Linked DNA regions of Homo sapiens. The protein of the gene in region 1 interacts with the protein of each later gene in a pairwise test. Each region holds a gene or a part of one and is shown in the gene's direction. Other genes may lie near its edges.

The links.
Region 2: the proteins of SGSM1 (region 1) and GIPC1 interact in binary tests that used the Homo sapiens proteins (3 or more experiments, as listed by UniProt).

The regions. Positions count from the first base shown.
Region 1 is NC_000022.11:24,812,708-24,816,517, forward strand, and holds part of SGSM1 (small G protein signaling modulator 1), read left to right. Parts: intron 1-3,810. UniProt on the Homo sapiens protein: Interacts with numerous Rab family members, functioning as Rab effector for some, and as GTPase activator for others. Promotes GTP hydrolysis by RAB34 and RAB36.
Region 2 is NC_000019.10:14,478,856-14,482,665, reverse strand, and holds part of GIPC1 (PDZ domain-containing protein GIPC1), read left to right. Parts: intron 1-1,887; coding exon 1,888-2,073; intron 2,074-2,180; coding exon 2,181-2,361; intron 2,362-3,141; coding exon 3,142-3,254; intron 3,255-3,810. UniProt on the Homo sapiens protein: May be involved in G protein-linked signaling.

The DNA.
Region 1 (3,810 bases):
AGCTAATAGCAGGGACCAGGATAGACAGTTTCTGCCAACTCTTAGAAGAAAACTTTCTCCCTCCCTCTGTTATTTTCTTTCTCCCCCACTTCCGTTCTTCCTTCCTTCCTCCCACAAATATTTATCAAGCATCTACTATGTGCCAGGCCCTGTTCTACAAGCTGCAAACTGAGAAGTGAGTAAAGCAATGTCTTTGCTCATATGCCCTCATTCAGTGTACAGTATAGTGGCAGGAGGGCATATAGAGAAAACAAGAAATATGTATTAAAGGTAACAAGAGCTCCAAGGAAAATAACGGCTGGAAGAGATGGGAAAGGCTTGCCAGAGGAGGTGGTCAGGGATGGCCTCACTGATGGGATGGTGTTTGAGCAGAGACCTGAAGGAAGGAAGGGAGCAGTGTCAACATCTACAGGAAGTGTGTGCCTGGCAGAGGGAATAGCGTATGCAGAGGCTGTGAGTTGGGAACAGACCAGCTGGGAGGCCAGTGAGGCTGGAGTGAAGTAAACAAGAGTAGAGATGAGGTTTGAGAGAGTGGGAGGCTGATTGTTCAAGACCTTGTCCATCGAAGGCATCGAAGGCTTTGGCTTTGACTCTGGTGAGATAGGAGCCATGGGAGTATTCTGAGCAGGGGAGGAACAGGCAAGTTTTGGGGACAAGTTGAGAGGAAGCAAAGACACCAGATCATCAGATAAGACAGGAAACGTCTGCCTTTGCTAAGCTTTTCCATTCTTGGGCTGGAATCACAGCCCCCCACCCACTACTCGCCCCACTGTGCCAAGGAGAGACTCCAAAAATGCATGTGCTTGAATGAATGCAGGAATGCCAGGTGGGCTATTTTGGGGCTCTCCGATGCTGGCAGGATTGACTCAAATCAGCTTGCGTGTGTCGTGTTTGCTGGCTTAAGAGGGCAGAAACGCTCCTCATGAATAATGCAGCCATATCCACCCGATGCGTTTTGATGCTTTTTCAGGTCTCTGGCAACCTGGCTTCTGGGAGCTTTTGCTAGTGATGAGCATCTGTGGCAGCTTAGGCACCCTGGTTCGATGTGGTGAGGATGGCAGGAGGGCCCCTGGCTTGCCTGGCTGTGTCTCTTGTACCATATGGCTGGGTCTCCCCCAGCCACCTCATGAGGTGCTCCAGGAGCTGGTGGTAGCATTTGTTGCTGGCTGGCCGGTAGGAAAGGGCATTTTGGTCACCCCTAAGGGCCCGCAGTTGCTGTCTGCAGAGCCCAGGATGGGAGGTGAGGAGACCTGTGTCCTTGTTCCAGTTCTGACCCCAACAATGCTTGTGGCTCCTAACAGGTCCCTTCTCAAGGTCTCACTTTCCTGCTTTCTAAGTGGACGAGGTTGGACAGCTCCAGGATTCCAAGAACCTCAACTCATCTAATTTGGCCAGTGTCACTCTCTGAGAGCCAAGTCTTTGTTTTTTCCACTCTGAATTTGCCAAGTATTTATTCAAGACTAATTAAAACTAAGTAGCTGGTAAGACTTTTGGAGTGCCTTCAGTTCACTCAAGGAAAACCAGGGCTTAACTAATGTCATTCTAATGGGATAAAGATTAAAAAAACAAAACAAAACAAAACAAAACAAAAACTAGCATATACTGGCATTTTATATTGATGACCTCATTTAATTATTGATCCCCCATGAAGTAGATAAAATCCCCTCTTTTATGGATAAGGAAATCGAGGCACAGAGATGGCAAGGAGTTCGCCCTAAGGTCTCAGAGATTGTTGTTGGTACAGCAAGGGGTCTGGCTGCACAATCCTCCTCTGTATCACTCTTGAGCTAAAGCCAGCAATCCACACAGGGTTCCAAGCTCCACCGAGAGTGTGGGGTCAGGGAGAAGGCCACAACAGCAAGGGCCTCAATTACCACTATGCTATCACTGTCAGGCAGTTGGCAGTATTTATGGAGGGGTCAGGCACACCGCGTGGCTCACCCTTTTGGGAGTAAGATGGACTCAGTCCCAAAAGGACACTTTGCCGCCCTTTCTGGTCACATCTGAACTTAAAAGATGCCCTCAGCACAGGATCTTGCTGTCTCTAGGTAAGCCCTGACCTGGAGGTGCTACAGCCCCCAGGGCAGTGCTGTGGAATTTAGTCAGAAGAGATATTTCTTGAGGTCCAAAGGGACAAGCCCTCTAATGGGCTGAGTCTTGGCTGGCTGCATCGCCATCATGGGGAGGGCAGCTGGGTCTTCCCTCTGAGGCTGGCTGCCCATCAGCTCCTGGAGACAGTCCCTCAGCCTAAGGAGCTCAGAGTCCCTGGTGACTTTCCTGGCCCTGCACTTGGTTGCTGTGCACCCCTGGACAAGGGGGCTAAGAATGCTAAACTCAGATGTGGGGCAGTGTATTTTTCTTTCACTTAGTGATATAGAAGATGAGATGAATAGATTTCTATGTTTTTTCTTTGCACAATTTTGCAGGAACTCAGATTGTGGGTATTTGCAAAGAACAGTAACAGTTCCTTTTGCAGTAAGGCCTCATTGAGAAAATGGATAGCTGAGGTCCTGAGAGTTCAAGAGACTTGGTGATGTTACCAAAATGCTGGGGTGTTGGTGTGGGTCCTGCTGCTGGCCACACAGAAGGCCAATCACTGAGATAAGTATTGCCCGGGAAGAAGTCTTTAGTTGAGTCCCGCAGCCGAAGAGATGGGAGATCAGGCTCACATCTATCTTCCTGACCAACTAAACTCAGAGGTTTATATAGCAGGAAGAAAATTTAAGTGCATGGAAGAAAACTGGAATTAGAGGGGCTGGGTGCAGTGGCTCACGCCTGTGATTCCAGCACTTTGGGAGGCCGAGGCAGGCGGATCACGAGTTCAGGAGATCAGGACCATCCTGGATAACATGGTGAAACCCTGTCTCTACTAAAAAAATACAAAAAAATTAGCCGGGCGTGGTGGCGGGCGCCTGTAGTCCCAGCTACTCAGGAGGCTGAGGTAGGAGAATGGCGTGAACCTGGGAAGCAGAGCTTGGCAGTGAGACGAGATGGCGCCACTGGAGGGCGAAAGAGTGAGACTGTGTCTCAAAAAACAAACAAACTGGAATTAGAGAGGGGTAAGGAAAAGGAGTTGGTCAGCAGGAAGCAGGTGGTGGGTTATGCAGTCATGCTGGGTAAGGGGTGTTGCATCTCTGTCCAGATGCAATGATCTGGTAAGTTTCAGTTCCTTGGGGGAGGCCTGATGTTTGGTTTCCTGAGAAAGGAACTCAGATAAGACAAATGTAACTTTCTGGAGTTTTAAAACTGGGAGGGTCAGTTTCTATGTATATTCAAAAGAAACCATAAACATTAGTTCTATGGGATAGTTGGGCCAGTTTCAGTGATACTTGGGGCATTGAATGAATTCCTTTTTAATTATTATTATTTGGTAAATTATGCTTACTTGGTAAATTAGAATTGTAGCAACTACCATTTACCAAATATTGCTGTAAGTGCTTTGCTGTCTCATTTAATCCACAAAACAACCTTCCTACACAGTAGGTACGAGTAGCAACTGCTTTTTACTGACAAGGAAATTCATGCTCAGAGAGGCTAAGAAACTGAACCAGGACTACAGAGCTGAGAAACAGCAGAGCAGGGTTTGTTAGCCAGCTCCATCCTCCATCCTTTTCAAGTCGGATAAACCCTGATAAAACTAGGTAGAATGATAATAAACATAAACAAAATGAGAAAGTGAAGCTAAAAAATTGATTTCTTTTTTTTCTTTCTTTTTTTTTTTTTTTTGAGATGGTGTCTCGCTCTGTTGCCTAGGCTGGAGTGCAGTGGCACGATCTCAGCTCACTGCAACCTCTGCCTCCTGGGTTCAAG
Region 2 (3,810 bases), on another chromosome or scaffold:
CAGGGTCCCTGATGGTGGACCAGAGGTCTGGGCCTGCATCCTGTTCATGAGCTGGGGCTCAGATGCTGAAGCTGCAGATGCTGAGCCTGGGCCCCACTCAGTGGTGGGGGCCAATGGCCTGGGCTGGATGCTGAGTCCCCATGAGGCACTGGGAGGCTTGTGCCCCTGTGAATTGTGGGGAACTGGAGGCCAGGGCTGGATGCTGAGTTCCCATCAGGCACTGGGAGACCTGTGCCCCAGTGGATTGTGGGAGCTGATGGCCAGGGCTGCATGCTGACATCCCATCAGGCATTAGGAGGGGTGTACCCCCAGTAGATTGTGCAAGACTAGGGGTGGATGCTGAGTTCCCAACAGGCACTGAGAGACCTGAGCTCCAATGGACTGTGGGAGGCCAGGGCTGGATGGATTGATTGGATGGATGGATTGAGAGGCCTGCATCCCAGTCGATTGTGCAAAACTGACGACCAGGGCTGGACGCTGAGTTCCCATCAGGCGTTGGGAGGCCTGCACCCCAGTAGATTGTGGGGAGCTGATGGCCACAGTTAAATGCTGAGTTCCCATCAGACACTGAGAGGCCTGCACCTCTACAGACTGTGGGAGCTGATGGCCAGGGCTGGATGCTGAGTTCCTGTCAGGCATTGGGAGGCCAGTGCCCCATGAGATGGTGGAGGCTAGAGGCCAGATACGAGATGCACTTCTCCGTGATGCCTTGGAGAAACTCAACGCTGTGGGAGGCAGGCTTGCCTGGTGCCAAGCACTGTGGGGATAGATGGGAGGGGGTCAAGGAGGGCAATAGTGGGTTTGAGCAAGAAGTAGACGCAGGGGTCTCCCTAAGTGGGATGAGTTTCTGTGTCCTCCACAAGCATTTCCTGAGCACTCACTGTGTGCCAGGCTCCGTTCCCTGAAAGCAGCAATGAATTTTTTTTTTTTTTTTTTTTTTTTTTTTGAGATGGAGTCTTGCTCTGTCACCAGGCTGGAGTGCAGTGGCACGATCTTGGCTCTCTGCAACCTCCACCTCCTGGGTTCAAACCATTTTCCTGCCTCAGCCTCCCGAGTAGCTGGGATTACAGGCGCCCGCCACCAGACCCAGCTAATTTTTGTATTTTTAGTAGAGACAGGATTTCACCATGTTGGCCAGGTTGGTCTCGATCTCCTGACCTCGTGTTCTGCCCACCTCGGCCTCCCAAAGTGCTGGGATTACAGGCGTGAGCCACCGCACCTGGCACAGCAATGAATTTTTGCTAGGACCGAAATCCTAGCTGGGTACAGTGGTGCACACCTATAGTCCCAGCTACTTGGGAGGTTGAGATGGGGGGATCACTGGAGCTCAGGAGTTCCAGGCCAGCCTGGGCAACATAATGAGGCTCCCATCTCTAAAAAAAATTATTTTAACTATGTGGGTGTGGTGGCACGTGTCTGTGGTCCCAGCTACTCGGGAGACTGAGACAGGAGGATCACTTGAGCCCAGGAGTTGGAGACCAGCCTGTGCAACATAGTGAGACCCCATATCTCCACAAAAAATACAAAAATTAGCCAGGCATGGTGGCGAGCACCTGTAGTTCCAGCTACTTGGGAGGCTGAGGTGGGAGGATTGCCGGAATCTGGGAGGTTGTGGCTGCAGTGACTATGATGGCACCACTGCACTCCAGCCTGGGTGACAGAGCAAGACCCTGTCTCAAAAAGAGAAAGGAAAACTAAATCCTAGTCCTAGCAGAGCTGACACGCTAATGTGGGCCCTGCTGTGGCCCTGGCTCAGGCTCAGTGGGTGATGAGTTACTGGGATGGAATCCCCCTAGTCCTCTCCCAGCTCTCTCCCTTCGCCCTCCAGTGGTGATTAGAAAAGGGGGAGGGAGGGGGAAGAGGTTTCAGCGTCTCCCACCCCTGCAGGTGATGTTCTGCACCCTGAACACCCACAAAGTGGACATGGACAAGCTCCTGGGGGGCCAGATCGGGCTGGAGGACTTCATCTTCGCCCACGTGAAGGGGCAGCGCAAGGAGGTGGAGGTGTTCAAGTCGGAGGATGCACTCGGGCTCACCATCACGGACAACGGGGCTGGCTACGCCTTCATCAAGGTGCCTGGGGAGACGGGGCACCCCGGAGGCCTGGGAGTGAGGGTGGGCCATGGGACCCCGGAAACCAGGGCAGAGCCCCAAGGGCTGATGACTCCCCGCCCCCGCAGCGCATCAAGGAGGGCAGCGTGATCGACCACATCCACCTCATCAGCGTGGGCGACATGATCGAGGCCATTAACGGGCAGAGCCTGCTGGGCTGCCGGCACTACGAGGTGGCCCGGCTGCTCAAGGAGCTGCCCCGAGGCCGTACCTTCACGCTGAAGCTCACGGAGCCTCGCAAGGCCTTCGGTGAGGAGCCGCCCCCTGGACCTCCCCAGTGGCGCTGCTCGCATGGGCGCAGGCGGTGGTGCCGGGAGCGGCCAGCAGGTGGCGCCCAAGCCTGGCCTGCCGAAAGGGAAGGGGTTGCAGAAAGGGAAGGGGTTGCAGCTCCTCCCGACCCCAGACGGGGTGCTGGCCCTTGGCCCAGCCTGGGAGAAGGGCGGGGGCGAGGAGGAAGTTGCCCTCACACCTAGCTTCCAGGGGCCATTAGCCCAGCCAAGCGCCCTCAGCCCTGGCCAGCCCCCTATCCCCAACAGGCCAGGCTTGACTGCTCAGTGCCAGCCCCCCCACTTTTCCATCTGGCTTCACTAACTCTCAGGAATGGGCCCCAGGCCCCTGAGGTGGGGGTGGGGGACTAAATCACTTCCCTGGGCAGGTAGGGCTGGTCTGTGGCCCAGCAGCCATACCCCCTTGGCCAAGAGGAGACGGACTCAGGCAGCTGGAGACTCAGGCTGGGGTACACCTGCTTCCTGTCCCCCAGCCCCTGGGAGCAGAAGTGGCCCCTCCAGTCTCCCCTCCAGCATTTCCTATTCCTGGCCCCCAGCTGTTCCCCCTGCTCTGCCCCACATCCATGCCAGGCCTGAGTCAGGATTCCTGCCCTCCTGGGATCACCCCGGCCCCAGCCCCCAGAAACTTGCAGAAGCCTGGAGAAGTTTGGGGTGGTGGTGAAAGCCAGGAAGGACAAGTTCCTGCCCAGAACGTGCTAAAACCAAGCTTCCCCCACACTCACTCCTCTCCTGCCTCCCACAGACATGATCAGCCAGCGTTCAGCGGGTGGCCGCCCTGGCTCTGGCCCACAACTGGGCACTGGCCGAGGGACCCTGCGGCTCCGATCCCGGGGCCCCGCCACGGTGGAGGATCTGGTGAGTGCTCCAGCCGGACCCTATCTCCGGCATCCCTTCCCTTTCTTTTTTTTTTTTTTGAGACAGAGTCTCACTCTTGTCACCCAGGCTGGAGTGCAGTGGTGCAATCTCGGCTCACTGCAACCTCTGCCTCCCAGGTTCAAGCGATACTCCTGCCTCAGCCTCCCAAGTAGCTGGGATTACAGGTGCCCACCACCATGCCCAGCTGATTTTTGTATTTTTAGTAGAGATGGGGTTTCACCATGTTGGCCAGGCCAGGAGTTGGTCTCGAACTCCTGACATCAGGTGATCCAGCCTCCTTGGCCTCCCAAAGTGCTGGGATTATAGGCATGAGCCACCGCGCCCAGCCCTCCCTTCCTTTTCATAACCGGCAGCATTACCTGTTAGCTGAGGGGACTCTGGGCAGACAGCCTGGATTCTAGTCCACTTCTGCCACTTCCCAGCTCCCAGGGACCTTCCTTGGGCACATGGGCCGCAGTTTGCCCATCAGTAAAATGGGGATGAGCTGAACACCGATACCACCTTCTCAGGGTTGTCCTGAGGTCTAAATACGAAT